Linked DNA regions of Homo sapiens: regions 1, 2, 3, 4 and 6 are each linked to region 5. The links come from fine-mapping of genetic effects on gene expression. A gene starts in region 5. Each other region holds a variant in brackets. All regions are shown on one strand. Distances are from middle to middle. Region 1 has its middle 50 kb from the start of SUNO1. Region 2 has its middle 21 kb from the start of SUNO1. Region 3 has its middle 23 kb from the start of KCTD15. Region 4 has its middle 38 kb from the start of KCTD15. Region 5 holds the start of KCTD15 (potassium channel tetramerization domain containing 15). Region 6 has its middle 130 kb from the start of LSM14A.

Region 1 (5,072 bases), 58 kb after region 5:
GCATTAGACTGATCATCTAGATAGAAAATTAAGAAAAAAAATTGGATTTAAACTGCACATTAGACCAAATGGACATAACAGAAATTTATAGAACATTTCATCCAACAGCTGCAGAATACACAGTCTTCTCATCAGTACACGAAACATTCTCCAGGATAGACCATATGTTAGAACACAAAACAAGTCTCAATAAATTTTTAAAGATTAAAATTATATCAAGTATCTTCTCAGATCACAATGAAATAAAACTAGAAATCAATAACAAGAGAAACTTTGAAAACTGTACAAATACATGGAAATTAAATGACATACTCTTGAATGACCATTGGGTCAAGAAAGAAATAAAGAGGAGATTTAAAAAATTTATGAAATAAATGAAAATCAAAACAGAACATATCAAAACCTTTGAGATATAGCAAAAACAGTGCTAAGAGAGAATTTTATAGCAATAAATGCCTACATCAAAAAGTAGAGAAATTTAAAATAAATAATTTAATGATGTACTTCAAGGAACTAGAAAATCAAGAACAAACCAAACCCAGAATTAACAGAAGAAAATAAATAATAAAAATCAGAGCAGAACTAAATGAAATAGAGACTTAAAAATTACAAAGGATAAATAAATGAAAAGTTGGTTTTTTGAAAAGATAAACAAAATTGATAAACCACTTGCTAGACTAAACAGGAAAAAAAGAGAGAAGGCCCAAGTAAACAAAATAAAAAATAAAAAAGGAGACATTACAACTCATACTACAGAAATACAAAAGATCGTGAGAGACTATGATGAACGTCTACACACTAACAAACTAGAAAACCTAGAGTAAATGGATAAATCCAGGACACGTACTACCTACCAAGATGGAATCAGGAAGCAACAGAAAACCTGAACAGGCCAATAATGAGTAATGAGATTGAATCAATAATTAAAAGTCCAAGACAGGATGGCTTCACTGCCAAATTCTACCAAGATTCCAAAGAAGGACTAATATCAATTCTCCTCAAACTAATCAAAAAAATTGAAGAGTAAGGAATTCTCCCTACTCATTCTATGAGACCAAAATTACCTTGATACCAAAACCAGACAAAGACACAACAACAAAAGAAAACTACAGGCCAATATCCCTGATGAACACGATTGCAAAAATTCTGAACAAAATACTAGCAAACCAAATCCAGCAGCACATGAAAAAAAAAAAAATAGGGCCGGGTGCAGTGGCTCATGCCTGTAATCTCAGCACTTTGGGAGGCTGAGGTGGGAGGATCACCTGAGGTCAGGAGTTCAAGACCAGCCTGGCCAAGATGGTGAAACCCCCCCATCTCTACTAAAAATACAAAAATTAGCTGGGCGTGGTAGCGGGCCCCTGTAATCCCAGCTACTCGGGAGGCTGAGGCAGAATCGCTTGAATCCAGGAGGCAGAGGTTGCAGTAAGCTGAGATCGCACCATTGCACTCCAGCCTGGGTGACAGAGTGACACTCTATCTTAAACAAACAAACAAACAAAAAAATACACCATGAAAAATTAGCCGGGCATGGTAGTAGGCACCTGTAGTCCCAGCTACTTGGCAGGCTGAGGCAGGAGAATCGCTTGAACCGGGGAGGCGGAGGTTGCAGTGAGCTGAGATTGCGTCACTGAACTCCAGTCTGGGTGACAGAGCTAGACTTCGTCTTAAAAAACAAAAACAAAAACAAAACGAAAACAAACAAACAAAAAACACCATGATCAAGTGGAACTTTGAAAACTATGCAAATACATGAAAATTAATCCCAGGGATGCAAGGATCATTCAACATACACAAATCAAAAAATGTGATACATCATATCAACAGAATGAGGGACAAAAAAACCCATATGATCATCTCAATAGATACAGAAAAAGCATTTGATAAAAACACTCAATAAACTAAGTATAGAAGGAATATAGCTCAATATAATAAAGGCCATATATGACAAAACCACAGCTAACATCATAATGAATGGAGAAAAGGTAAAAGCCTTTCCCCTAAGAACTGAAACAACACAAGGATGCCTTTTTTCACCACTCCTATTCAACATAGTACTGGAAGTCCTAGCCAGAGTAATCAGACAAGAGAAAGAAACAGAAGGCATCCAAATTGGAAAATAAGAAGTCAAATTGTTGATCTTTCCATATGTATATATAAACAGGGTCTTGCTCTTTCACCCAGGCTGGAGTGCAGTGGTGCGATCTTGGCTCACTGAATCCTCCGCCCCCAGGCTCAAGCGATCCTTCCGCCTCAGCCCCCTGAGATATATATCTCTCTATATAAATATA[AATATAAAT/A]ATATATATATATATATATATATATATATATATAGTTTTGAACAACATGGCAAGACCCCATCGCTACCAAAAATACAAAATATTAGCCAGGCATGGTGGTGTGTGCCTGTGGTCTCAGCTACTCAGGGGGCTGAGGTGGGAGGATCACGCCCGGCCAGGTTACTTGATTTTTGACACAGGTGCTAAGGTTATTTAGCATCAAGAAAATGAAAGTCTTCATAGAAAATAGTCCCAGACACTTGGACATCCATAGGCAAAAGTGAACCTCAACCTTTATGTCTCACCTTACACAAAAATTAACTTGAAATAGAGTAGTAGACTTAAATGCAAAATACAACATTAAGAAACTTCTATAAGTGAATAGAGGAGACAATCTTTGTGAGCTTGGGATAGGCAAAGATGTCTTAAACAAGACATAAAAGCACTAATCTTAAAGGAAAAACTTGACAATTTTTTTCCTTCATCAAAATAAAAAAAACTGCTTTCTGAAAGGCACTTTAAAAATAAAGTCTTGAAGTCAGGATTTAAGACCGGCATGGGCAACATGGTAAGACTCTGTCTCTACTAAAAATGCAAAAAATTACCCAGGCATGGTGGTGCATGTCTGTCATCCCAGCTACTTGGGGGGGGTGAGGTGAGAGAATTGTTTGAGCCTTGGAGGGTGGAGGTTGCAGTGAGGAGCCAGGATCACACCACTGCACTCCAGCCTGCGTGACAGAGAGAGGCCCTGTCTAAATAAATAAATAAATAAAGTCAAGACAAAGGGTATAAGACAATATTGTCAATACACAGCTCTTACAGAAAGACTTGTATAATATCTTACAAAAGATTCAATAAGAAGAAGACAACTGAATTTTAAAATGGACGAAAGATTTGAACAGACATTTCACGGGCTAAGAAGCACATGAAAAATGCTCCACATGATTAGTCATTAGGAAAATATTAATTAAAACTACAATAAGATATCAATAAGCATCCCTACTAAAATGGGCTAAAACGAAAAAGACAGATATTCTGAGCTCTGGTGGAGGAGCTAGAGCTCGAATCCCTGGCTGGAGGAAGTGTAAAATCGCTCAGCTCCTTTGCAAACAGTTTAGCAGTTGTTATAATATTAAACGTACACTCGATAAAGAAAATGTGATATATATATACCATGGAACGCTACTCAGCCATAAAAAGGAATGAAATAATGGCATTGGCAGCAACCTGGATGGAATTGGAGACCGTTATTCTAAGTGAAATAACTCCGGAATGGAAAACCAAACATTGTATGTTCTTACTCATAAGTGGGAGCTAAGCTATGAGGATGCAAAGGCATAAAAATGATACAATGGACTTTTGGGACTCAGAGGAAAGGGTAGTGGGTGAGGGATAAAATACTATACATTAAATACAGTGTACACTGCTCGGGTGATGGGTGCACCAAAATCTCAGAAATCACCACGAAAGAACTTATGCATGTAACCAAACACCACCTGTTCCCCACAAAACCTATTGAAATAAAAAAATAAAAATAAAGTTGAACAGGAGAAAAAAAAAATACACTCATCACATGACCCAGAGATTCCACACTTAGATATTTACCCAAGAGAAAGAAAAACATATACCCATACCGAGACTTGTACACAAATGTTCATAGCAGCTTTACTCATAAAAACCAAAAACTGGAAACAATCCAAACGACAGATAAGTGAAAACACAAATTGTGGTGTATCCATACAACAGAACACTATTCAGCACAAAAGAGGATAAACTGCTGGTATGTGCAATGGCATGGCTGATTCTCAAAAGCATAAGTGATCTCTCAAAATGATGCCTCAGCCAGCAGAGGTGGCTCATGCCTGTAATCCCAGCACTTTGGGAGGCCGGGGTGGGCGGATCACTTGAGGCCAGGAGTTCGAGACCAGCCTGGCCAACTTGGCAAAAACCCCATCTCTACTAAAAAAACAAAAAACAAACAAAAAAAATGAGCCAGGCATGGTGGTGCATACCTGTAATCTTAGCTACTCGGGAGGCTGAGGCAGGAGAATTACTTGAACCCAGGAAGCAGAGGTTGCAGTGAGCTGAGATCACAATACTGCACTCCAGCCTGGGCAACAGAACAAGACTCCATCTCAAAAATCAAAAAAACAAAACAAAATGATGCCTCAAAAGTATGATGCTGGGTGCAGCAAACCACCGTGGCAAACCATGTAGGTAAACATGGTACAGGTTTACCATGTAACAAACCTGCACATGTACCCTAGAACTAAAAAAAAAAAAAAAAAAAGCAGCATGATGCCGGGCAAAAGAAGCCAGATACAAGAGTATGTGCTGTACTATTCTGTTGATATGAAATAGAAATAGTGACAAAAAGCAGATTGGTCACTGCCTAGAGCAGGGGCTAGGAAGGCAGGTTATCTACTAGGCAGGAGCAGGAAAGCAGCTATAGGTGTGGAAACGTTCTATGTCTTTTTTGGGTGGAGGGTGGTTACATGGTTGTATACATTTGTCAAAATGCATGGGTGCATTTTATTTTGTAAAAATTATGCCTCAATAAGTTGGAATTAAAGAAAAAAGAAAGAAAAAATATTTTTATGCCATTGGGGGTAGAGAAAGTTCTTTTTGAATAAGATATAAAAACTATAAACCACAAAAGACAAAGAGAATTCTACTACATTAAAATTTACAACTTCTGCATATCAGAAGACACCAACCTCAATATTAAAAAACAACCCACAGGCTGGGCACGGTGGCTCACACCTATAATCTCAGCACTTTGGGAGATCAAGGC
Region 2 (5,072 bases), 87 kb after region 5:
ACAATTTTCAAATCTGTTTATTCTACTAGACACCCTCGTATTCCTAGCGCTTGTTTCTACGTTTTCTTTTGTTTAAATCTCTTATTGTCTCAAAAAGGTTATCAAAAAATAAAAATAAAAAAACGCATGTGCACACACACACACACACACACACACACACACACACACACAAGATTGTGTCCAGAAGACTTTCCAAGGGCTGGGAGTGGTAGCTCACACCTGTAATCCCAGCACTTTGGGAGGCAGAGGCAGGAGGATCGTTTGAAGTCAGCAGTTTGAGACCAGCTTGGCCCACATGGTGAAACCCCGTCTCTACTAAAAATACAAAAAAATTAGCTGGGCATGGTGATGTGCACCTGTAATCTCAGCTACTCAGGAGGCTGAGGCAGGAAAATCATTTGAGCCTGGGAGGCGGAGGTTGCAGTGAGCTGAGATCACACCACTGCACTCCAGCCTGGCTGACAGAGTAAGACTCCGTCTCAAAAAAAAAAAAAAAAAAAAAAGACAGTTTTCCCAGCTCATCCCCACAAAACCTACCTCCCAGCTCCCTTCCTGTAGACCTAGGCAGAGAGAGACCAGCTCTAGAGAACTCAGGAAAGGTAATGTTAGAAACCTGAGAACTGACAGGGTCAGGAAGATAGCCTGAGCAGCAAGAAGTATGGTCTAGTATGGTGAAATTTTGTTCATCTTAGATTTTTTTTTGCATTAGTTTTTATTTTTAAAATATTGCATTAAAATAGTATCTATTTATTACTGGGTTATTGGGCACCTCCTTAAAGCCTGCCCTCAGGCAAGTGCTTCACTGCCATCATCCTGGTCCTGGCCTTGCCCTGGGGAAGAGATGCCTGCTGACATCCGCTTCAGCTTCGCCAGGCTCCAGCCTGGACCAGCTAACATGGCTGTGGAGGAGCCACTTCTCTCAACACCCCTCTGTTAGGGAGGAGGAGACAACTTCTTTTATTTTGTTTTATTTATGTATTTATTTTTATTTTTTATTTTTTATTTTTATTTTTTGAGATGGAGTCTTACTCTGTCACCCAGGCTGGAGTGCAGTGGTACGATCTCAGCTCACTGCAAGCTCCGCCTCCCGGGTTCATGCCATTCTCCTGCCTCAGCCTCCGGAGTAGCTGGGACTACAGGCGCCTGCCACCACGTTCAGCTAATTTTTTGTATTTTTAGTAGAAACGGGGTTTCACCGTGTTAGCCAGGATGGTCTCGATCTTCTGACCTCGTGATCTCGTGATCCGCCTGCCTCGGCCTCCCAAAGTGCTGGGATTACAGGAGTGAGCCAGCGCGCCCGGCCTATTTATTTATTTATTTATTTTTTGAGAAGAGGGTCTTGCTATATTGCCCAGGTAGGTCTCAAACTCCTGGGCTCAAGCTATCCTCCTGCCTCTGCCTCCCTAGAAACAACTTCTTTACTGGCCATTGGCAAGCCAAGTTCATTGAAGTCTCCCTCCTAAACCTTTACAAAGATTTAGGAAACAGATTAACAATAAAACTTCAACAAACCCAGGATGGGAGAGTTACTGAATTAAATTAGAGCTTTTCTCGTACATCACGCTAAAGGTAAATTATTTTGTTTATTCGAAGCCACATTCATATTATAAAATGGTTTGCTTCTCTCTCTCTGTCTCTCTCAAAGAGATGAGGTCTCACTGTGTCACCCAGGCTGGAGTATAGTGGTATAATCACAGCTCACTGCAGCCTCCAACTCCTGGGCTCAAGAGAACCTCCCACTTCAGCCTCCTAAGCTGTTAGGACTACAGGTGCACATCACTACCTCTTGCTAATTTTTTTAATTTTTTGTTGAGACAGGATTCCGCTATGTTGCCCAGGCAGGTCTGGAACTCCTGGCCTCAAGCGATCCTCCCACCTTGACCTCCCAAAGCACTGGGATTACAGATGTGAGTCACCACACCCAGCTGGTTTGCTGTTCTGATAAAGGTCTTGAAAAGACAAGAGGAGATGTATTTTATTGGCATCATTATCACTAACTAGCACCATTGCTTACTGAATGCCATGCATGGAGCTGAGAGCTCTACAATATACATTATTTTGCTTAGTCTCCAGCAACTGCAATGGCAAATTTGAGGCTGCACAAAGATACACATGCTGGCCTCAGGGCTGAGCCGGGATGTGAAGTCAGATCAGACTCCAGAGCCCACATGCCATGGAGCCTTGGAGACAGGTTTGCTTTCACTCTGTTATCTTGCACAGGCCTAACTCTGGGCAGGGATGCTGAGCCCAGGGCTGAGGCTTGGCCAGGCGGCTGCAATCGCAGATCAACCCTGTAAGCCTGAGGACCCGCAGCTTCCGTGGGAAGGTACAGACCTCCTGCCCTGCTGCACAGCCCTGGGCAGAGCAGGCATGCCCAGGACCACACTCCACTTCCTCCGGATGGTGCCTTCAGTGGAGTCAGCGGCAGGACCACTGATTTTTCATTCTAGGTCCCTATGCAAAAATAATAAAGACTTCCTGTCTGAGCACTAGGGTAAACAGATCTTAGCTAAAGGGAGGAGGAGGGGTTGTGGGAAGAACCTCTGTTGTCCCAGCTGGAAACTTAAGCACCAGGAAATGCATTTCCGCGTGTTCCCAGCCTGCCGAAAAGTCAG[G/GCA]CACACCAAGGACAAAGCAATCTCCAATGCCTGGCCCAAATTTGGCTTTTCCCCTTCCCCGCCTGCTCCTCCAGGCTTCCTGGGTTTTTCACTCTCCTCCGTTTCCCCTCTGGGCAAGCCCAGAGGGTGTTTGTTTAAAGTACCTTTCGCTAACATTCCTTCCCAGCCATTCTCACAGCTTTTCACTTTGCATTACGCCCAGAGCCCCTAGATGCAGTCTCTTTACCCAGCCAACCCTCTTTCAAAAACTAACCTATATTTTACATGGAGAACTTTAACCCGTTTGCCTCCAAAAAACCCTGTAACATTACAGAGACGCTAAAGTCTCCTTGGACCTCTAAAAATCCATGGCTACCCACTTCAGCTCCCCAACAGGTAAGCACTGAAGCACTGACTTTGGAATTTTTTTTTCAGAAATGTTTCCTGTTTTTGCAACATACATTGGACTTCATTAAAACTATGGCATGTGAATTTTTTTATTTTTATTTTTATTTTTGAGACGGAGTCTCGCTCTGTCTCCCAGGCTGGGGTGCAGTGGTACGATCTCGGCTCACTGCAAGCTCCACCTCCCAGGTTCAAGCGATTCTCCCGCCTCCGACTCCTGACTAGCTAGGACGACAGGCACCCGCCACCATGCCCAGCTAATTTTTGTATTTTTAGTAGAGACGGGATTTCATCATGTTGGCCAGGCTGGTCTTGAACTCCTGGCCTCAAGAGATCTGCCCACCTCGGCCACCCAAAGTGCTCAGATTACAGGCGTGAGCCACTGTGCCCGGCCGAGGCATGCGAAATGTTATTGATGAGTTTGGTTACTTTTTTTACATATATACTGTTCTACGCATTTTTTTTTCACTCAACAATACCTCTTAAAGATCTATTTGCATACACACAGATCCAAGTCACTTAAAAAAATTTTTTGTATAAAGCCCCATGCTGTGAACTGCTTCTATCTACTGAGGCATTTTGATATTGATGGGCATTTAGGCTTCTGCTATTTCCAATGCTGCTTCAGAGACGCTTTCTTTGTGCACATATACATTTCTCGAGGGTAGATAACACAGAAGGGAAATTGCTGGGTTTCACGGTATGCACATTTCTAGCTCTGAGGGCATCCAAAGTGCAGCTGTACTGATACACGGGGCACCAGCATCCTCTGGGAGCAGCGCCCTTACAGGCCTGCTAGTACCTATCGGACTTTTAAATTGCTGCCCTTGTGATGGGTGACAAGTGTTGCTTAATTTGTATTTCCCTTAAGATTTGGTAGGGTCAAACTTTTTTTTTTGGTAATACATTTTACAAGTCCTTTTTCATACCTCTTCTGTGAATTGCCTGTTCATATTCTTTGCCCCTAAAAAAAAAATTGAGTAGTTTGTCTTTAAAAAAAAAAAAACACTTTATGGATCTATGATTGACATATAAAAAGCTGTACATACTGATGCATACAACTTGATGGGATACTATACACAGCCATGAAACCATCACCACTATCAAAGCCATAAATATATCCATCACCTCCCAAAGATTCTCCCATTCCCTTTATTTATTTATTTATTTATTTAGAGCCAGGGTCTTTTTTTGTCACCCAGGCTGGAGTGCAGTGGCACAATCACAGCTCATTGCAGCCTCAACCTCCTGGGCTCAATCAATCCTCCATCCTCAGCTTCCCAAGTAGCTGGGACTATTGCTTTTGAGACGGAGTCTTGCTCTGACGCCAGGCTGGAGTGCAGTGGTGTGATCTCAGCTCATTGCAACCTCCACCTCCTGGGTTCAAGTGATTCTCCTGCCTCAGCCTCCCAAGTAGCTGGGACTACAGGCGCACGCCACCACACCGAGCTAATTTTTGTATTTTTAATAGAGACGGGGTTTCCCATGTTGGCCAGGATGGTCTCGATCTCTTGACCTCATGATCCGCCCGCCTTGGCCTCCCAAAGTGCTGGGATTATAGGCATGAGCCTCCGCACCCGGCCAGGATCTCCTTTTTTAAGGCTGAATTGTATTCCATCGTGTATACACCACATTTTCTTTATTCATTCATCCATCAATGGACAGTTAGGTTGTTTCCATATCTTGGCTATTGTGAATTGTGCTGCAATGGACATGAGAGTGTAAGTATCTTTTTGAGATACTCAGCATTGCTGGATCATATAGTAGTTCTGTTTTTATTTGTTCCAGTAACCTTCACACTGGTTTCCATGATGGCTGCACCAATTTACATTCCCACCAACAGTGCACCAGTGTTCTTTTCTCCACATCCTTGCCAGCACTTATTGCCTTTTTTAAATTTATTTATTTAAATAATAGCGATCCGAGCCAGGTGCAGTGACTCATGCCTGTAATCGCAGCACTTTGGGAGTCTGAAGTGGATGGATCACCTGAGGTCAGATGTTCAAGACCAGCCTGGCCAACTTGGTGAAACCCCGTCTCTACTAAAAATACAAAAACTCGCCTGTTGTGGTG
Region 3 (5,072 bases), 23 kb after region 5:
TGGGAGGCAGAGGTTGCAGTGAGCCGAAGTCTCACCACTGCACTCCAGCCTGGGTGACAGAGTGAGACTCCTTCTCAAAAACAGGAAAAAAAAATGGTAAGAATAGAAAGATGATATTAATGCATATGTGTCAAAAGCAGCTCCTGCCTTTATTAGTGAGAAGTTTCTCATTAGATCAAATGAAGTTTCTTGTCAGTATCCAGAGAAACCTACAAAGGCATCACAAAGATAAAGCTCTAACGTCCAACATAAAGCCCGAGACAAAAGATGGTCTAGAGCACCTGCTTGGAGGAAGGTCTATCCAGGAACAACTGTATTTAGGTTAAACTGCTAAATTCACCAACTAGGGCAGAGAGGCACAGAAACATTCCCTCCAGAACCCCTTTCCATTAAGAGTTCACTCCTGTCACCACATTCTAGGCAGCCCCGATGTTCTCTGGAGGACCGGTGAGGTAAGGTAATGCTTTGTGGACTAACAGAAAGAAAAAAGTGTTGGTGACAGCTAAGGGCAGCTTCCTGCCAGCACCAAGACTAGCGCTGATGTTCTCTTAGAAGCACCAGAGTTTTCTAAGGTGACCCAAATGGAACACAACCCCAGGGAAGGTTGAAAGTCAGAAAAGAAGAGCGCGTCTCTGCTCTTTCTGGATCTCACAACCAGCGAGTTCTCGCAGCCATGGCCTCTGTAAGCCCAGGGACATTTCTCTGTGAGCTTTCATTGGAAGGGAAACCCCAGCCCCAGAGAAGCCTACCCCGCCACATCCCAGGCTAATCCCTGGATCTGGTTCAGGAGCTCTCTTCCTGCAAGCCCCAAAGCTAGACAAGCAGAGCCCTGCCAGGCCCATGGTGACCTCTGCAGACCTAGGAACTGCAGGCAGAGTTGGGGGCTCGTTCCTGGGGAGGGGCCCACCCCTGAGGTTGTGCATCCAGGAGGGGCCCACCCCTGAGGTTGTGCATCCAGGCATGACTGACTGTTGGTAGCTGTTTACCCTCAGGGAAAGAGAACTTTCTGTGTTTTTATCTCCACCCCCAGTGGAAGGATATGTTGAGTAGAGTTTTTGCTTTTTGAGGAAAAGTCATGATTTGGAAAGGGGCGCTGATGTATCTGTTGAGGCTTTGGATGTTGATTTTTAAAGGGTCCCTGCTTCCCTGCAAAGATCCTTATCTTCACAACCACCCAAGAGCACCACTTATTGGTGGCCAGCATATGCCAAGCACTGCAGGTGCTTGGGAGGGCAAGATAGCTCATGAGGCTTGGAGCAGACATTTGTTTATGCACAGGAATTGTTCACTTTTTTTCTTCTCCTTTTTTTTTTTTTTTGTGAGACAGGGTCTCACTCCGTTGCCCAGGCTGGAGTGCAGTGGTGCAGTCTTGGCTTACTGCAACCTCTGCCTCCTGGGTTCAAGCGATTCTTGTGCCTCAGTCTCCCGAGTAGCTGGGATTACAGGTGTGCACCACCACGCCCAGCTAATTACTGTATTTTTAGTAGAGGCGGGGTTTTGCTTTGTTGGCCAGGCTGGTCTTGAACTCCTGGCCTCAAGTGATCCTCCCACCTTGGCCTCCCAAAATGCTGGGATTACAGGTGTGAGCCATTGCGCCCAGCCAGGAATTGTTTACTTTCAATTGTGTACTTGAAGCTCTGTAAATTTAACAGGAAGAGAGACCACATTGCAGTTTTCCACTTCGTCATGACACTGAACATGGATTACCCCAAATGCATTGATTTGCATGTAGAGAGAACCACCTCTCAGGCCTCAAGACTAGCGTCTCCATAGCAAAGGAAGCTTCTGTGAAATTCTAATGAGAGACCCAGAGAAAGAGGCAGGCACACTCCCGGGGACACACAAAGGAGAGGGGTTAGGGGTCAGCTGCATTTGGGGTTTTGTCTTTATTTCCATTACACAGAACAGCCAGTCCCGACAGCGCCCAGGCCCCACAGGACAATGCTGTTCCTGGACCCGGAGCCATGGCCGTGGAATAAGAGCTAGGTCTTCAGGGCCTCCTCCTAGGATCCTTCTTAACACAGAAATCACAAACCAGGCCAAAGTCTTAAAAAGCAGAGCCTGGGAGGGGCAGGGACGCCCAAGCCACGCTGGGGCCCGGGAGGCCTCCCGTCCTGCCCGCGGGAGAACCCAGGCCGCGCATCCCTGGCTGGACGGCGTCACCAGCCGTAGCTGGGCCAGGCCTGCTGCTCAAAGCCCGTGTCTAGGATGTCACCAGAGCTCCCTTTTCTGTGTCCTGGACCCGGTTCAGGGCCCCCGAGGAAGCTGCGGTTTGGGGCGAGCCGATTGCACCAGCAGGGCCGGGCTGCTGCTCCCGGGGCTGACGCGGGCCACGCCCTCCTGGACGCGGACACACCCCCATTTCCCCGGGCCCACAGAGCCACGCCTGGCCCTGCAGCCAAACAGCGGGAAGGCAGATTGGTACGAGTAGGTACAAGGCCCTGGAATTCTCGCCCGGTTGCCACACACTGCACGGAGCATAATTGGGGGAGGTTGTGCAACTGCCCGGGAAGCCGGGGCTCGCAACGAGGGCTCTCTCCAAGTCCCCATCACAGGCCTCCGGGGAGCCTCGGGACAGAGCCTGACGCCACCTTCGGGTGACATCGATGGCCTCGCTCTGGCAGAGGAGTAGTGTGGCTCTGCCGAGAACTGGGGAGCCCGGGTCCCCGCAGGGCCAAGGGGAGGGAGGGCTGGCGGAAGGGGCCGCGCCCACAGCCCCAGGTGGCAGCAGCGGCGGTGGCGGTCCCGACTGGCAGAGCCTAACGAGAACAGGGCCTATCCCCAGGGGCCCCGGGCTGGACGCAGACCAGATCTCGCGGGGGTGGGCTGGGAGGCGCCCGCCAGAGGCCGGAGGCTGACAGTGCCTTTCCTATCCTATGGGTCTATTGTGGGCCCGCGGAGCCCCCATGGGTGGGTCCATCCCCGGGCCCAGTGAGTCACTTCCCCAGGCCCCGGAGGCCTTCGTGGAAGGTGCCTCCCTTTCC[G/A]GCAAAGCATCCTTTGTTCTCCTGCTGGCTTTGCTTCCCAATCCTCTCTGAGTTGCAACCTTGAGGGTTTTAGGGGCACCAAGCTCCCAGGAGCACAGAGGTGGGCTTGGGTGCCACCTGGAGAGCGGGCTGCAGAAGGCTGCAGCTGCTTTTTTGCTTCCTCAGTTCCCTGCCCTCTCAAGGCCCAGGCTCTCCCACCTCCCCAGACGTCTGGGGAAACCCACACTGCCCTGCATAGGTTGTGGTGTGCAGCCTCCGGACTGCAGATCCTGAACGCGCATCAGGAGGGAGGGAGGGAGGTTTCGATGCTCTCGCCCTGGCCAGCACCGCTCTGAGTTGCTGAACTGGCCTCAAGGCTTCTCTTGCATCAGGGAGAGGCTTCCGGCACCACCACTGGCACTCCTCCTTCTCCCTCCCTTTAGCCTCCCCCAGTTCCCATGCCCAGGTGGAGGAACCCGTGTAGAAGCCCAGCCCAGGGAGGGAATTCATCAAAGCACCTTCCCACACAGCCTCTAGTTTGCCTCCTCTCCACTCCCACCTTCCAGCCCCAGCCTGGCTAGCCACGTGGGGGGCTCCTGTGCCAAGGAGTGCCCAGCTGCCGGGTGAGTGAGCAGCCCTGCACAGAAGGCAGCTGACTACCATACACACTACATGTGTGGAGAGCACCAGCCTTGCAGCCTGGCGAGGCTCTTGCTTTGAAGAAATAGAAGACTAATTATTTTATTTATTTATTTATTTATTTATTTATTTATTTATTTATTTATTTTTGAGATGGAGTCTTGCTCTGCCACCCAGGCTGGAGTGCATTGGTGTGATCTTGGCTCACTGCAACCTCCACCTCCCAGGTTCAAGTGATTCTCCTGCCTCAGCCTCCCGAGTAGCTGGGATTACAGGCGCCCACAACCACGCCTAGTTAATTTTTGTGTTTTTAGTATATGTGCTGCTGAAGTGAGCATGAATTTTTGTGTTTTTAGTACAGATGGGGTTTCACCATGTTGGACAGGCTGGTCTTGAACTCCTGACCTCAAGTGATCTACCCTCCTTGGCTTCCCAAAGTGCTGAGATTACAGGTGTGAACCACGGCACCCAGCCAGAAAACTAATTTCAAAACAAAAACAAAAGCACCCCTGTATGCACAGATTCTCAAATTGTATTTACTATTGGCAAAGAAAGGAAGGGGGCCCCTTAGTGTCCTAAAACCAGGAGAGATGAAATCGATTATGGAACATCAGTTGATGAAATACATTTATCCTTCCACAAATATCTACTGAGTGTCTACAATCAGCCTGGTTACTGGAGGCCAGGCTCTGAGTCGTGAGTGTCCCATGAATCACCAGCTCTCCAAACCCTGACATCTAACACCACCCACTTCCCACCCTCCCCAGGAAGAAACAATATTTAATAGTTTCATTTACACAGAAAAAGAAGGTGCAAGCTCTCTCCCTAAGGAAGAGCCAAAAAGCAGCCTCAACTGGCTCCAGAGCCTGTGCTCCTGGATTAAGAACAGAGATCAGTGTATTGGTTTCCTCTTGTGGCTATGACAAGTTACCACTAATGTGGCTTAGAAAAATACTATTTTTTTTTCTTTTTCTTTTTGTAGAGACAGGTCTCCCTATGATGCCCAGGCTGGTCTTGAACTCCTGGACTCAAGCGATCCTCCCACCTTGGCCTCTCAAAGTGCTGGGATAACAGGTGTGAGCCACCATGCCTAGCCCAACACTGATTTTAAGATGATATATTTTCATCTTACAGTTCCAGATGTCAGAAGTCTGACATGGGTCACACTGGGCTAAAATCAAGGTGTCAACAGAGCTGCTCTCCTTTCTGGAGCTCTAGGGGAGAATCTTTCCTTGTCCTTTCCAGCTTCTAGAGGCTGCCTTCATTCTGTAGCTTGTGGTCCCTTCCTTCATCCCCAAAACCAGAAGTGTAGCATCTTTAGATCCCCTCACCCTTGTTTTTCTGGACTCTAGTGATTCCATTGCCCACCCTCCACCCTGCAGATAATCTCCCTATTTTAAGGTCTACTAATTCACCTTAATTCCATTGGCAATCTTAAACCCCTTTGCCACATAACCTAAGATACTCACA
Region 4 (5,072 bases), 38 kb after region 5:
TTTTTTTTCTTTTTCTTTTTTTGAGACAGGGTCTCACTCTGTTACCCAAGCAGGAGTGCAGTGGTGTGATCTAGGCTCACCGCAACCTCCACCTCCTGGGCTCAAGCAATCGATTCTCCTGCCTCAGCCTCCAGAGTAGCTGAGATTACAGGCACATGCCACCATACCCGGCTAATTTCTTTTTATTTTTAGTAGAGACGGGGTTTCACCTTGTTGGCCAGACTGGTCTCGAACCCCAACCTCAAGTGACCCACCTGCCTCAGCCTCTCAAAGTACTGAAATTACAGGCGTGAGCCACCATGCTTGGCCGTGTCTTCTTCTTTTAATCTTCCATATACCCTAGACCAGGTGCTGAAGATTCCCACAACCTAGAAATTCCATTAAGCACTTAAAAAAAAAAAGATAACAAAATCTTGCTCTCTCTGGACAAATGGACAAAGAATAACTTAAGGAAAACCCGAAAGACGCCTAGTGGGGAGTCCCATGCCCCCTCCACAGCGGAAGCACTGGCAGGCAGCCTGACCCACCTGCAATCACAGCCTGCAGGGGCAGCGTCAGCTTAGCTCTGTGTCTACCTGCCCTCCATGCAGTGGCATAAGAAGACCCAGGCCCTCTAAACCATTTAGCAGAAGAATGTAGCCCGCAAACACCAAGCAGCTCAGGGAAGTGCCTTCTGCCTTAAACGATGACATCGACAGAGATGGGGCAGGGCTAGAAGTAGCCCCAGCAGTGCTAGAAGAATCAAGCAGTTCCAAATCACATTGAAAGTGTTCTGATGGGCCGGGCGTGGTGGCTCACGCCTGTAATCCCAGCACTTTGGGAGGCTGAGGTGGGTGGATCACCTGAGGTCGGGAGTTCAAGACCAGCCTGACCAACATGGAGAAACCCCGTCTCTACTAAAAATACAAAATTAGCCAGGCGTGGTGCTGCATGACTGTAATCCCAGCTACTTGGGAGGCTGAGGCAGGAGGATCGCTTGAACCTGGGAGACAGAGATTGCAGTGAGCTGAGATTGCGTCATTGCACTCCAGCCTGGGCAACAAGAGTGAAACTCCATCTAAAAAAAAAAAAAAAAAACCAGAAAGAAAGTGTTCTGATGATGACCAAACTGTCCCTGGAACTAATGCCTACAAATATATGTCAGAACCTATATACTAAAGCTAAATAGAGTGACTGCCTGCTAAAACATATTAAAAAACAATTTTTTAAAAAAGGCAGACTTGTTCTGTCATCAGGCTGCAGTGCAGTGGTGCAATCACAGCCCACTGCAGCCTCAACCCCCTTAGCTCAAGTAATCCTCCTGCCTCAGCCTCCCGAGTAGCTGAGACCACAGGTGCACACCACCATGCTTGGCTAATTTTTGTCATATTATTATTTGTAGAGACAGGGTCTCGCTATGTTGCCCAGGTTGGTCTCAAACTCCTGGGCTCAAGTAATCCTCCCACCTCAGCCTCCCAAAGTTCTGGGATTATAGGTGTGAGACAACGCATGCAGCCCTAAAACAGATTTAAATAGGATCAAGCGTGTGCTAACATAATATCCAGTGTCCAGAATACAATTGCAAAACACTCATCATCCCAAAGAACCACAGTTCGAATGAGAAAAGACAAACTGCCTCCAAAACCCAGATAAATCAGATGTTGAAATTACCTGACAAGAATTTTAAAGCAGCCTCATAAAAATGCCTCAACAAACACTTATAATGAAAAAAACACTTATAATAAAAAAAATGTTTAAAATTCTCGGCAAAGAAAGAGCAGTAATTTAAACAAAGAACCAAATGGATCTTATAAAACTGAAAAATACAATAACTGAAATTTTTAAAAATGTACTAGATGGACTCAATAGTATAAAGGAGATGACACAAGATAGAAACGATAAACTTGCAACAGATCAATAGGATGTACTCCAACTAAACAACAGAAAGAAAACAGACTGAAAAAAGGAAAAAGAGCTTCAGTGTTCTGTGGGGCAGTAACAAAAGATATAATGTTTTTGTATATAATCCAAATCCCAGAATGAGAAAAGAGAGTGTGGACTAAAAAAGTATTAAAAGAAATACGAAAAGAAATCCACCCCAAGATATATCATAATCAAATTCTGAAAACTAAAAACAAAGACAAAAATCTTAAAACTAGCCAGGCAAACAATGTGTTCCCTATAAATGAATATCAATTCAAATGATAATGAATTTCCCACCGGAAACCACGGAGGCCAGAAAGAAGTGGCCCAACTTTTTTTTTTTTTTTTTTTTTTTGAGACAGGGTCTCACTTTGTCACCCAGGCTGGAGTGCAGTTGTGCAATCTTGCTTACTGCAGCCTCTGCCTTCTGGGATCAAGTGATCCTCCGACCTCAGCCTCCCAAGTAGCTGGGACTACAGGTGCACGCCACCAGGCTTTGCTAATTTTTTAAGGTTTTTATGGAGACAGGGTCTAACAATATTGCCCAGGCTGGTCTCGAACTCCTGGGCTCAGGAGATCCTCCTGCCTTGGCCTCCCAAAGTCCTGGGATTACAGGCATGAGCCACTGTGCCTGGCCAGCCCAACATTTTTTAACTGCTGAAAGAAAAGAACCTCCCACTGCAAATCCTCTATCCAGTGAAATCATCCTTCAGGAATAAAGGGAAAATAAAGTCATTTGCACACAAAGGAAAACTAAGAGAATTGTTGTTAGTGGATCTATCCTTAGAGGAAGCTCCCTAAACAGAAAGAAGATGGTAACAGAAGGAGGTTGGAACATTTAAGTCTTATGTTAGAAAAAAGGAAAAAATCTCAAATCAATCATTTAAGCTTCCTTCTCAATAACGTAGAAAAAGAAGAGCAAATTAATCCCAAAGCAAGTAGAAGGAAGGAAACAATAAACACAAGAGCAGAAATCAACAAAATTAAAAAA[AC/A]AATAGAGAAAATTAAACCAAAATCTGGCTCTTCATAAAGATCAACAAAATATATAAAACTCTTGCAAGATTGACAGAGAGAAAAAGGGAGAAGACACACATCATCAATATCAAGACTGAAACGGATGATATTGCAATCGATCCTGCAGCCATTAAATAGATACTAATGGGATACTATAAATAACTTTACACTCATAAATTCAACAACTTAGAAGAAATAAGGTTATTCCTCAAAAACCACAAAACTGGGCCAAGATGAAATAGATAACCTGAATTATTCTATAACTGTTAAAGAAATTGAATTTATAATTATAAAACTCCTGAAAAAGGAATCTCTATGACCAGAATGTTTCATTAGAGACTTGTACCAAACATTCAAAAATGAATGTTTCAAAAGATTCATGAACATCAATTTTGCACAATGTCTTTCAGAAAGCAGAAGAGGAGTGAACACTTCCAAACTCATTTTATTGAGGCCAGAATTACCCTGATACCAAATTTTGACAAAAAAGAAAACTACAAGGCTGGGAGCGGTTGCTCACACCTGTAATCGCAGCATTGTGGGAGGCTGAGGTGGGCGGATCACCTGAGGTAGGGAGTTTGAGACTAGCCTGGCCAACATGGTGAAACCCTGTGTCTACAAAAAATACAAAAATCAGCCAGGTGTGGTGCCTTGTGCCTGTAACCCCAGCTACTCAGGAGGCTGAGGCAGGAGAATTGCTTGAGCCCAGGAGGCAGAGGTTGCAGTGAGCCGAGATCATACCACCACACTCCAGCCTGGGCAACAGAGCGAGACTCTGTCTCAAAAGAGAAAAAAAAAGAAAACTACGGACTAATATGTCTTATGAACTTAGAGACATTCTCGACAAAATTTTAGCAATTGAATTCAACAATGTATAAAAAGAATAATACACAACAACCAAGTGGAATTTTTTACAGGTATGCAAGGTTGGTTCACTATTCAAAAATCAATCAATGTCATCCACCAGATAAATAGGCTAAAGAAGAAAATCATATGATTATGTCAACTGATGCATTTGACAAAGCATTTGAAAAATTCAGCACCCATTCATGATAACAACTCTTGGTACGCTAGGAATTGAAGGACACTTCTTCAACCTCATAAAGGGCATCTACAAAAAACCTAAAGCTTACATCATACTTCATAGCAAAAGACTGCATGGTTTCCCCTATGGTCAGAAACAAGATAAGAATGTTCACTCTTATCATTTTTATTGAACATAATATTGGAAGTTCTAGCCACTGCAATAAGGCAAGGAAAAGAAAGAAGCATACAAATTGGAATGGAAAAAAGTAAAACTGTCTCTGTTTGCAGATGACATGTTGTCTACAAGGAAAATCCCAAGGAATCTACAAAAAACTCCTAGAACTAATTAAAAAGTTCAGTGAGTTCAGTAAGGTTGCAGGATACAAGATTAACATACAAAATCAATTGCATTTCTATATACTGACAGCAAACAAGTGGAAATCAAAATAAAAAACACAATACCACTTAAAACTGCTCCAAAGAAAATCAAATCCTTAGCTGTAAACCTAACAAAACATGTATAGAATCTGTATGATGAAAATTACAAAATGGTAATGAAAGAAATAAAAGAAAACCTAAATAGTTGGAGAGACATACTAAATTCATGGATCAAAAGACTTAACATAGTAAAAATGTCAAGTCTCTCTAAATGATCTATAGGTTTAATGCAATTCTTACCAAATTCTCAGCAAGAATTTTGTAGACATAACAAGCTTATGCTAAAATTTAGGCCGGGCACGATGGCTCATGCCTGTAATTCCAGCACTTTGGGAGGCCGAGGCAGGCAGATCACTTGAGGTCAGGAGTTTGAGACCAGCCTGGCCAACATGGCGAAACCCCGTCTCTACTAAAAATACAAAAATTAGCTGGGCATGGTGGTGCATGCCTGTAGTCCCAGCTACTCGGGAGGCTGAGGCAGGAGAATTGTTTGAACCCAGGAAGTAGAGGTTGTGGTAAGCCGAGATCGCACCACTGAACTCCAGCCTGGATGCTGCAGTGAGACTTTGTCTCAAAAAAATAAATAAATAAAATAAAATAATAAAATTTATAGGAAAAGATACAAGACCTAGCTTGGCCAAAGCAATTTTGAAAAAAGAAAAAAAGGGATATGGTGGAAGGAAACACTCTAC
Region 5 (5,072 bases):
CAACACAAGCCTGCTCCACCTTCCCTCATTCCACCCTCCACAAAGGCCTGGGGCGGGGGAGGACGTTTCTGTCCATGAAGTTGGGGGCACCCACACACACAACCTCGTCCGATTGTGATTCTAGCCAGCATTTAAGGGTGGATACAGGAGATCAAAGTATTTGAATACTTGCTTCACTTTCTATTTGTGTCTGGTCCCTCAATGCTGAGTGGGATGTGCATTGATGGAGGGCTTTGCTGTTCCTATGTCGTGCTTGGGACAGTCGGCCACAAAGCTGGGCTGACCTCTCGGGCCGGGCCGGGCCTGGCCAGCGTGCCGAACGCGCAGAGAGCGCGCTGCTGAGCCGAAGCTGGGAGCTGGAAGCCCGGAGGTACCGGGGCGTAGGGAGCAGAGTGGGCAGCCCTTGGGCCTCGCGGGAGCCCCTCCCAACCCCTGCACAGATCCCTGACCTACTTCCAGGGCTTCTTTCTGTTCCAGGAGCAGCTCAAAATCCATAAATTAAGGAAATTAACTGATGGGGCCTGCGGCATCTTTGTAAGCTATTTAAATCTATAAATTTACAACATCTTCTGCATATATCAAATAATTGAACTAACTGCAGGGATGTAACTTTAATGAGAAAATTTCCCCCTTTTTCCTGTAGTTCGAACTCGAAAATAAATAAATAAATAAAACCTTCCCTTAGGAGGAAAGTTTCGGCTGATTCCCGCGTAAAGAAGTTACGGAAGCGCTGTCTGGACGCTCTCTCCACGCGCGCGAGGTCCTCTAGTAGAGGGAGAAAGCCCCCCCCACTTCACCTTCCTCCCACTGGCACCCCGAGTCCCCCTCACCCCAGCTCCAGGCCGACCCCGAGCGCCCCCCACCCCGGGAGTGCGGCCGCTAGGGGGCGTCCAGGCCCGGCCGGAGCCGGCGGTCGGGACCCAGGCGCCGTTCCGGCCCGTGCGCACCCGCCCCGCGGTCCCAGCCGGTCTCCGGCCCGGGCGTCCCTGGAGCCAGGCGGGGGCGCAGTGCCGGCCAGTCGCGCGCTCCGTTTCCTAGGAGCCGGGAAATGGTCGCCGAGGAGGAGGAGGAGGCACGGGCGGGGCGCAAAGGAAACAGGAGGAAGAGGAAGGGGAGGAGGAGTGGGAGTGGGAGAAAAGGAGGAAGGGGCGGCCGAAGCGGAGACTGGGGAGGGGCGTCCGGGGCGCGGACCTCGGCCGCGGGGAGTCTTGGCTGCCGCCGTCTCCATCGCGCCGCGCGCGTAAAGGAAATGGCGCGTCTAGCCGCGAGCGGTCGGCCCGGTGCCCCAGCGCGTCCCTCCCCCGCGGCGGCCGACCGCGTGTCCGCAGACGTCACGGGAGAGGGGCAGCGGGGCAGAGACCCTGGGAGGGCGGCCAGGGAGCGGGGGAGGGGCGGCCTGGCCCCCGGCTCCGCTCCAGCCCCGACCGACTGGCAGCCCAGTTTCTTCCCAAGTCCCGCCCCCAGCCCCGGGCGCCGCGGCGGCGGCTGCTCTCCTCTTTGTAACCGAGGAGTCAAGAAATGTGAGAAACGTGCCCTGTGTTACTTATTTGGGAGCCGAAAATTTATGCCCAGCTGAAAGCGCCCGGGGAAATATTACATCAGATGAAATGACAATGATTAAAATCAGCCTCTCCCCCGCCCCCTCCCCGAGCCCGGAGGAGGCCCGGGCGCCGCGTGGCCGGCCGGCGGGGGGCGGGGGGCTGGGCCGCGGAGGGCGCTGGGGCCTGGGCGCACCGCTCCCGGGAGGGTCCTGGCCGCGGCCCCGGCGGGAAGGCGCGGGCTTCGGGAGAGGCGGGTGGGGATCGCCCGGCGAAAGGAGGGGAAACGGCGCGTTTTTGTCGCCAGGCGCGGGCGCGCGGAGCTAATTGCGACTCTAATCCTCTGCCCCGCGGCGCAGCCGAGCCCCGAGCCAGGAGTCGCCGCGCGCGCCCGTTCGCGCTGGGTAATTTGGGGCCGGATCGCTGCCCTTTACGTCCGGGCTGGGCCGCGGCGAGGCGCTGGCTAGGGGCTGGAGTGGGGGGCTGGTTTTCTCTCCAGCAATCGAGGGAGGCCGCCGGAGAGAGAGGAGGGAGGAGAGGAGGTGGGAGCGGCGGGAGGGCAGCCGGAGAGCGGCGCGAGGAGGAGGCGGCGGCGGCGGAGGCGGCGGCCGCGAAGAGGGGAGGAGGCGAGGGGAGGGTGGGGAGGGGAGGCCCCGGCGCGCCGCGCCGCGAGGGGCCGCGTGAAGCGGGGGCCGGGGCGGGAGGGGTGGGTGGGGGGAGGGTTGGGGGCGAGAGAGAAAGTAACTCCAGGACGAGACCGGAGCGACCCGCGCAGCGAGCATAGGCGGCGAAGCTGCGCCCGGCGCCCGAGACCGGCAGCTGCGTGGGGCGGGGGCTGCGCCCGAGCCCGATCTGCCGGCTCCGAGGTAAGCTCAGCGCGGGCGGCCACCGCTCAGAGCCGCGCAACCCTGCCCCGAAGTGGCTGCGATACCGAGAAAGTCGCCCGGCCAGGGTCTGGACCTGGGCGGGGGCGGCCGCTTTGTCCCTCTGCTGGGCGGCGGGGGCTGGCGGCGCGGGGGTGCCCAGCACAAAGGCCTGGTGCAAGAGTGGGGTTGCCCACGTGGGCTGGTCCTGGCCGCGGGTGGACCCTCCCCACGCGGGCGGTCTCGGAGCTTCCTGCCGCGCGGTGTGTGTGTGTGTGTGTGTGTGTGTGTGTGTGTGTGCGCGCGCGCGCGCGCGCGCTTGTGGAGGTCCCCGCACTCTGGCCCCTGTTCTGGGCCGAGCGCCCTGCAGAGCTGGCGAGTTTCCGGGGTCAGAAACGGGCTCACGCAACTGGGGCTTCGGGATGCACAAGTCCCGGCTTGGCGCCCAAAATCAGAGAAAGTCTCCAGTGGGACAGATGTGCGTCCTCTGACGCCCACCCCACGAGTCCGAAACCTGGCAGGAGGGGCTGTCGCGCTGGTGGTGGTCCCGGGCGCGCAGGGTTTGGGGCTGGGAGAGGGGCCGCGATGGGAGGGATCGCCGCCTGCAGATCCGGTTCCCCGCTGCCCGCCCGCACCCCCTGACCTGGACGCGCGCACCCGGCACACACTCGCAAACACACCCGGGGGCGGACCCCCGCCTCTGCAGCGCCTTTCTGTCTTCCGGCGGCCCCCACCCGCGACTGCAGAAAGATAAGCTTCAAGTTTTCGCTCCGTATCTCAAATGTGCATGAAGGAATTTAACTGCACGAGTGAATAACAGCATTAGTTTCAATTAATTTTTTTTTAATCCCGGCAACAATAAACTTTGAGAACAAAAGCGCTTTTACGTCCTTAATTAGGCGAGCTTCCCATCTGTGGTCTCCAAGTGTCTGCCTCTTGATTTAACTTTGTCCCCGCCCCGCCTCCGCGGCAACCCCTCCCAGCCCAGCCCCGCGCTTCGGGTGCCGCGGCCACCCCGCCCCGCGGCGCCTCCAGCCTTGGCCCAAGCCCTCTCCCGTCGCCCCTAAGTTCACACCGGCCGGCTGGCTCCGCGGCGGAGGCGGGAGGGGGGGGGTGGGGAGGCTGGCGCGCACCAGGTGGCCCGCCTGCCTCTCCGGGGCCACCCCTGGGACAATTGTGCAGGCCCCCAGGACTTTCGCCCCGGGCCAGCGCCCTGAGTGCGGAGCCGAGGGGAGCTCGAGAGGCGCCTTCTGTTTACCTTTTATGGTTAAAATAACAGCTTAGCAAAGAAGCGACTTCAGAAGAAGCGATTTAGTGAAATCGTCTCAAGCTGCCGCAGCTCAGCCAGTTTAATCACCCCCAGAGAGCCGAACAACTGCGAGCGCAATGGGACACAAAATCATTTTGTGTGTAAATGAGCGTGGCATTCTGCTCACTTCTCTCTGCTCGGGCGGGCGGGGCTCGGCGGCGGGCGGGCAGGGACCCGGGTCTCCCGCCGCAGCTGGAGAAGCGGGTCACTACCGGGCCAGTTTGGAAACCTGTGGGCCCTCCCGACCGCTATCGCTGAGGCCCCTGCAACAGGCGGGCCAGGGCGCACTGGGGCTGGGTGCTGGGTTTGATGCTGGTGCTGGTGGAATGAACTTGTATCTCTCACTGCACCCACTTTTGTGCTTCTGACTTAAGCAGTGGTCTCGGAAAGAGGGTCGTGGTCCCGCACGGATGCGCTTGTTGGGAGAAACCTTGGAGATTCACGGCAAGGCGTAAAGCCTGGGGCTTCCAACGGTAAGTTTCTGGCTTGCCATGAACATCAGGTTGTTCTTGGGAGGGAAAAGGGGCTAAGAACAGAGTGGAGCGGCTTCTGTGATGGAGGCTTGGTGTTCACGTCACTTTGGAATAGTGTCCTGGTATTGGGGAAAACATCTTGCAGTCCGCTTTGATAGAATTTCAGCCAGAATTCCTTCCTGTTCAGTTTATCCTCAGCGCGTCTTCCCTTCTGACTCCTCCCCCAGCAGAGCCTCCTAGGGCAGGATAATCCATTCCTGAGGTCTGTTTTGGTTCTCAGAACTCCTTGAGCTAAGTGACCTGGTTTTGTTTTTTTAAGCTTGTAGAACTCAGGAATGCCAAAAGCAGTGGATTCTGAGTCCACAGGCCCCAGTGAGGGTATATATTAAACATCACTGTCTGCCCATTGCAACCTCCCACCCCAGTTTTATGTCAGGAAACTTGCCCGGGCACTCAGGGAGAGCAACCTTGCTTACATTTGCAGGATTTGATTCTGGTTGGATTAAAATTGGATATTGAATTTCAAGGCACAAATTTTGATCCCAGAGTTTTAATGGGAAAAAGCAATCCCATGGGTCCCAAGAATTTCAAGTGGTTTCTCTCTTAAAGGTTAAACCTTCGAGAGACGTCCAGGGTAGGTTTGTGGAAGCCAGTGTCTGTGGATGTGTGAAGGGGGGTGACTATTCACGTGCAAATCTCCTCTTTCCTCCCTTTTGAGACAGCTGTAAATCAGTGAACGGGGCTGCAGAATTCTGCCCCTCCTGCATAGGGCCTGCAAAGCGCCCCTGGGTGTGGCTTCCAGGGACTGAGGGACAATCTTATTTCAGGTGACTACGGCACAGAGGAGAGTTACTGAGTGCCTCTGGGGAGGAGCAGTAGAAAGGGTCCA
Region 6 (5,072 bases), 240 kb after region 5:
CACCATGCCCATGCCCAGCCCCCAGCCATCCTTCTGCCACTCATATTTTGACACACCATGCCAGGTAGCACTTCCACCCCCATATTCACTCTGTCCAGGATCTAACACCCCCACCCCGCATACCAGGCCACCCACCATGGTAGAACTCCAACACCCCATGCCAGGCAGCGCTCCTAGGTGGATGCCTGCCTCACCTTGCTTGAATTTTTTTTTTTTTTTGAGGTAGATTCTCACTCTGTCACCCAGGCTGGAATGCAGTGGCACAATCTTGGCTCACTGCAACCTCTGCCTCCCAGGCTCAAGTGATTCTCCCACTTCAGCCTCCCGAGTAGCTAGGACTCCAGGTGCCCGCCACCACTCCCAGCTAATTTTTGTATTTTTAGTACAGACAGGGTTTCACCATGTTGGCCAGGCTGGTCACGAACTCCTGACCTCAAGTGATCCACCCGCCTCAGCCTCCCAAAGTGCTGGGATTACAGGCGTGAGCCACAGAGCCTGACCTCTTGCTTGAATTCTGATACCCGCTGCATGGATGCTCTCACCTGGGAGATGTCTGATGCCTCACATAGGGCTGCCCTCTTATGCGGAGCACTTCTTTACCCCACTCATGATCAGACACCCCACACTGGGCTGTCATCCTACACAAATGCTTTCCACACTCCAATGCTCCGATGCTCCAAGCTGGGCCGGCCTTCAGCAGGGAGGCCTTCTTATCCGACTCAGGTTCCAATGCTCTGCATCAGCCACCAAACCTCACCCTGGCTATCTCTGACAGCCCAGGCTAGGCCATCCCCACCCCTCCCATGTGGATACCCTCCTCACCTGCTTCAGGATGGTAGGGCTTCCCTGCTGCTCTGTATGGATGTCCACCTTGCTTGGTCCCACCTAATGACTTTTAAAAGGATTTGTTCAGGAAGAGAAAGAAACGGAAGAAGTGGGAAAGAGAAAGAAATAAGCAAGGCTTTTATTTTAGAATCAAGGGGTGCACGTGCAGGTTTGTTACAAGTCTTCCATGATGCTACAGTTTGAGGTATGAATGGTCCCGTCATCCATGTAGTAAGTAGGGTACCCAATAGGTAGTTTCTCAGCCCTTGCCTCACCACCTCTCTCCCCTCTCTATTAGTTTGCATTGTCTATTTTTCCCATCTTTATGTCCATGTGTACCAAATGCTTAGCTCCCACTTATAAGTGAGAACAGGCAGTATTTGGTTTTCTCTTTCTTTGTCAGTTGGCTTAGGATAATGTCCTCCAGCTGCCTCCATGTTGCTGCAAAGGGCATGATATCATCATTTTTTTTATGCTGCATGGTATTCCATGGTGTATATGTACCACATTTTCTTTTTGTTTGTTTGTTTTTTGTTTTTTGTTTTGAGACGGAGTCTCCCTCTGTCGTGCAGGCTGGAGTGCGGTGGCATGATCCCAGCTCACTGCAAGCTCCGCCTCCCGGGTTCACACCATTCTCCCGCCTCAGCCTCCCAAGTAGCTGGGGCTACAGGCGCCCATCACTAAGCCCGGCTAATTTTTTTTTTTTTTTTTTTTTTGTATTTTTAGTAGAGACAGGGTTTCACCGTGTTAGCCAGGATGGTCTCGATCTCCTGACCTCGTGATCCACCCGACTCGGCCTCCCAAAGTGCTGGGATTACAGGCGTGAGCCACCTCATTTTCTTTATCCAGCCCACCACTGATGGGCACCTGGAAAAGCCCATTCTCTTGTAAACCCATTCTAATCAGACTTTTGTCCCATCCTTCCACAGAAACTGCTCCCAACAAGTTAACCATGACCTCCACAATGGTTGATTCTCACAGCTCACTCAACAGAGCTCTTCCTCCTTCTGGGTATGCCTGGTTCACTTGGGTTTGAGGATACACATTCTCCTGGTTTCCTTCCTGCCTCGTGGAAATGCCAAAGTAGAGAAGCCACCTGCCCGTGAACCTAAGACACTAAAATCCTGAAGTGTGTGGACTGCATTCCTGAATTAAAGGCTACCAAAAATGTCACTGTCATGACATACCCACCCCAGATATATACAAAGCAGTTAGACGGGAACAAAATTAAGGGGATAATTATTCATTACAAAACTACTACCTTCACCAGAGGCCAAGGTTAAAATAATAATCTAAACACTAATCTTGTTCTTAGTTTTAATTAATTTTCTTTAAGATGCTCATCACCATTGAGAAACCTGCACAAATGAATGCTAATTCATTTCACTGAAGTGAAAGAGAAAGGGGCTTTTTTGTTTTAAATGCTTTTCTGATTTTTTTTTAAATTAACACTGCTAACCTATTTCATGTTTAAAATCTTCTCTGCCGAGGCTCAAGTTAGGTTTCCCAATGGAAGAAGAATACAGCTCCTGGGAATTAGGGCAAAATGGCTTGTTAAATGAATGAAGACAGAGGCTGAAATACAAATATTTTGTGAAGTGTTCATATTTTATCAGCCAAAATGAGCTATAGCAAATCATCACATGTCTAAAAAATGTAGAGAATACTGGGAGCTGCTCGTTTTACATCGAGTCGACCTTCTGTTGCTTTAATGACCTGATCTGAAATAACCTGGCAGGCTCAGCATCACCCCCAAGGTCCGTGTCAGCAAAGGGACCCACTGTGTCCATCACTGACATGACGCACGCGCCTGGCTGCCACTCACCAGCAGGGGGCACTGCGCCGGGGCCTTTCTGTAGGCAAAACCACTCAAAAGCTAAGGATTGAGAAACATGTATTCCGGGAGACAGAAAAATGTGCGTCAGTGTCACCATCTCAGACAAACTCATTGCCACACCATCGACAGGACATCTTCATGTGTGTCTTCATAACAATATCCACTGTAGGGTGTTCTGAGGCCCAGAGCCTATCCCAGAATTACAAATAAAATAGTAGTGAAGCCAAAAATACCAAGTCTATCTGAAACCCTTTCAGTGAGCATGATTTTTATTTTATTTTATATTTTGAGATAGGGTCTCTCTCGGTCACTCAGCCGGGAGTGCAGTGACACAATGATAACTCACTGCAGACTTGAATTCCCGGGACTCAAGTGGTCCTCCCACCTCAGCCTCCTCAGTAGCTAGGACTATG[G/A]CATGCACCACCATGCTCAGCTGAATTTTTTTTTATTTTTTGTAGAGACAGGTTCTCACTTTGTTGCCTATGCTGGTCTGGAACTCCTGGCCTCAAGCAATCCTCCCACCTCGGCCTCCCAAAGTGCTGGGATTACAGGTATGAGTCACCGCTCCTGGTCAACATCTACATTTTATATTTGGGGAAAGTGGGGCCCATAAATTATGTATTTTGTGATATATGAGAGACAAAATAAGAGTTTTAATTGCATTTAATATTTAAAAGACTGTAATGGCTGACCCATAAAACAGGATTTTATCCATGATTTCCTCTCTAGTGAATCATTCCTATCAGCACAAATTTTTCCCATGTTAAAAAAAAAATAAGTTTTGGCTAGGTGCAGTGGCTCATGCCTGTAATCCCAGCAGTTTGGGAGGCCAAGGTAGGAGGATCACCTGAGGCCAAGACTTGAAGACTTATCTGAGCAACATAATGAGACTGCTGTCTCTACCAAAAAAAAAAAAAAAATTAAAAATTAGCTGGACATGGTGGCATGCACCTGTAGTCCCAGCTACTCGGGAGGCTAAAGGGGGAGGACCCCTTGAGCCCAGGAGTTTGAGGCTGCAATGAGTGGTGATTGCACCACATCACTCCACTCCACTCCACTCCCTGTCTCCAAAAAAAGAAAAAAAAAAAAAAAAAGTTTTGGCCTTTCTTTCCCTTCTCATTACTGCCCCCATTTCTCTCTTTCCCTTTATAGGGAAGTTGTGTGGTAAACACACTCTACGATGAGTATTCACATCCTTGAATAAACTCCTCCCCTTGAAGGAGGACATAGTTTGCTTGAGTGTGAGCAAAGCTGTGACTTGCTTCTAACCAACTGTATACAGCAAAATCAATAGGATGTCACTCCCAAGATTACATACTATTAAGACTCCATCTTGCTATCAAACTCACTCTAACACTCTCTCTCAAGATAGTTCTGAAGAAATAAGCAGCCAGGATAGGAGGCCAATCTATCAAGAAGCTAAAGACAACCTCTAAGAGCTGAAAGCCACCAAGAAGCCAGGACTCTAAGTCCCACAACCACAAGGAAATGAGTTCTATCACCAACCTGAGTGAGCTTGAAAGCACCTTCTTCCCCAGTTGAGCCTCCAGATTAGAACACAGTCAAGCTAATCCCTTGATGGCAGCCCTGTGAGACCCTAAGAAGAGGACCCAGTTAATCTGTGCCCAGACTCTTGTGAGATAATAAATGCATGTTTTCTTTTAAGTCACTAAGTTTGTGGTAATTTTTTATGCAGCTGTGTTCAAGGATTTCCCAACACCACTCTCAGCTTCAATGATCACTAGAAGGACTCGCAGAATTCAGCAGAGCCATTACACTCACAGTTACAGTTTATCACAGTGAGCAGATACAGATTAAAATCATCAATGAAAAAAGATGCATAGGGAAGAATCAGGAGAGACCAGGCATCAGTTTCCAGTTGTTCTCTCACCATGGAGTCATGTAGACAGCACTTAATTCTCCCAGCAATGATGAATGACAGCTCCCACAGAGTATTACCAAACAGGGAAACTCACTGAAGCCTTTCTGTCCAGGGCTTTTATTGAAGGTTGGTTACCTAGGCATGGCTGACTGCCTGCATGGCTGACTCGAGTCTCCAGCACCTCCAGAGATTGAGATCATACTGGGTAGTACAAGGCCCCCGCCATCAATCACATTGTTAACATGAACTATCTTACATGGCCCAAGGCCTCAGATAAACAAAGACATTGTTAACAGACAGGAGATTCCAGGAGATTAGAGGTTGTCTCCCAGTAGCCAGGAAAGGACCAAACCTTTCTTTGGAATGTGGAAGAATCAGACTACCTAAACCTGCTGAATCCTTTATAGCACAGCAGAAATAGATAACTAATAAAGATTCTGGTACCTAGAAGTAGGGTGCTGCTGTAGAAGTGGCTTTGGAATAAGGTAATGGGTGGAGGCTGGAAGAATTGTGATGAGCATCATAGAA

Evidence for each region. PIP is the estimated chance that this variant, and not a neighbour inherited with it, causes the effect.
Region 1: its variant is fine-mapped to the expression of KCTD15 in whole blood (INTERVAL, PIP 0.96).
Region 2: its variant is fine-mapped to the expression of KCTD15 in whole blood (TOPMed, PIP above 0.99).
Region 3: its variant is fine-mapped to the expression of KCTD15 in whole blood (INTERVAL, PIP above 0.99).
Region 4: its variant is fine-mapped to the expression of KCTD15 in whole blood (TOPMed, PIP 0.97).
Region 6: its variant is fine-mapped to the expression of KCTD15 in whole blood (TOPMed, PIP above 0.99).

The regions. Positions count from the first base shown.
Region 1 is chr19:33,852,742-33,857,813 of GRCh38, forward strand. No RefSeq gene overlaps it. Among named protein-coding and RNA genes, the nearest start is that of SUNO1, 50 kb to the right of the region's middle. The variant AATATAAAT/A (reference allele first, on the strand shown) is at 2,292.
Region 2 is chr19:33,881,720-33,886,791 of GRCh38, forward strand. No RefSeq gene overlaps it. Among named protein-coding and RNA genes, the nearest start is that of SUNO1, 21 kb to the right of the region's middle. The variant G/GCA (reference allele first, on the strand shown) is at 2,616.
Region 3 is chr19:33,817,763-33,822,834 of GRCh38, forward strand. No RefSeq gene overlaps it. Among named protein-coding and RNA genes, the nearest start is that of KCTD15, 23 kb to the left of the region's middle. RefSeq lists enhancers at 2,494-2,693, 2,572-3,566. The variant G/A (reference allele first, on the strand shown) is at 2,985.
Region 4 is chr19:33,832,267-33,837,338 of GRCh38, forward strand. No RefSeq gene overlaps it. Among named protein-coding and RNA genes, the nearest start is that of KCTD15, 38 kb to the left of the region's middle. The variant AC/A (reference allele first, on the strand shown) is at 2,894.
Region 5 is chr19:33,794,584-33,799,655 of GRCh38, forward strand. It overlaps KCTD15 (potassium channel tetramerization domain containing 15), which reads left to right and starts at 2,287. Exons shown (of 7, transcript NM_001129994.2): 1 at 2,287-2,404; 2 at 4,085-4,183. RefSeq lists an enhancer at 1-220 and a silencer at 866-985.
Region 6 is chr19:34,039,465-34,044,536 of GRCh38, forward strand. No RefSeq gene overlaps it. Among named protein-coding and RNA genes, the nearest start is that of LSM14A, 130 kb to the right of the region's middle. The variant G/A (reference allele first, on the strand shown) is at 3,076.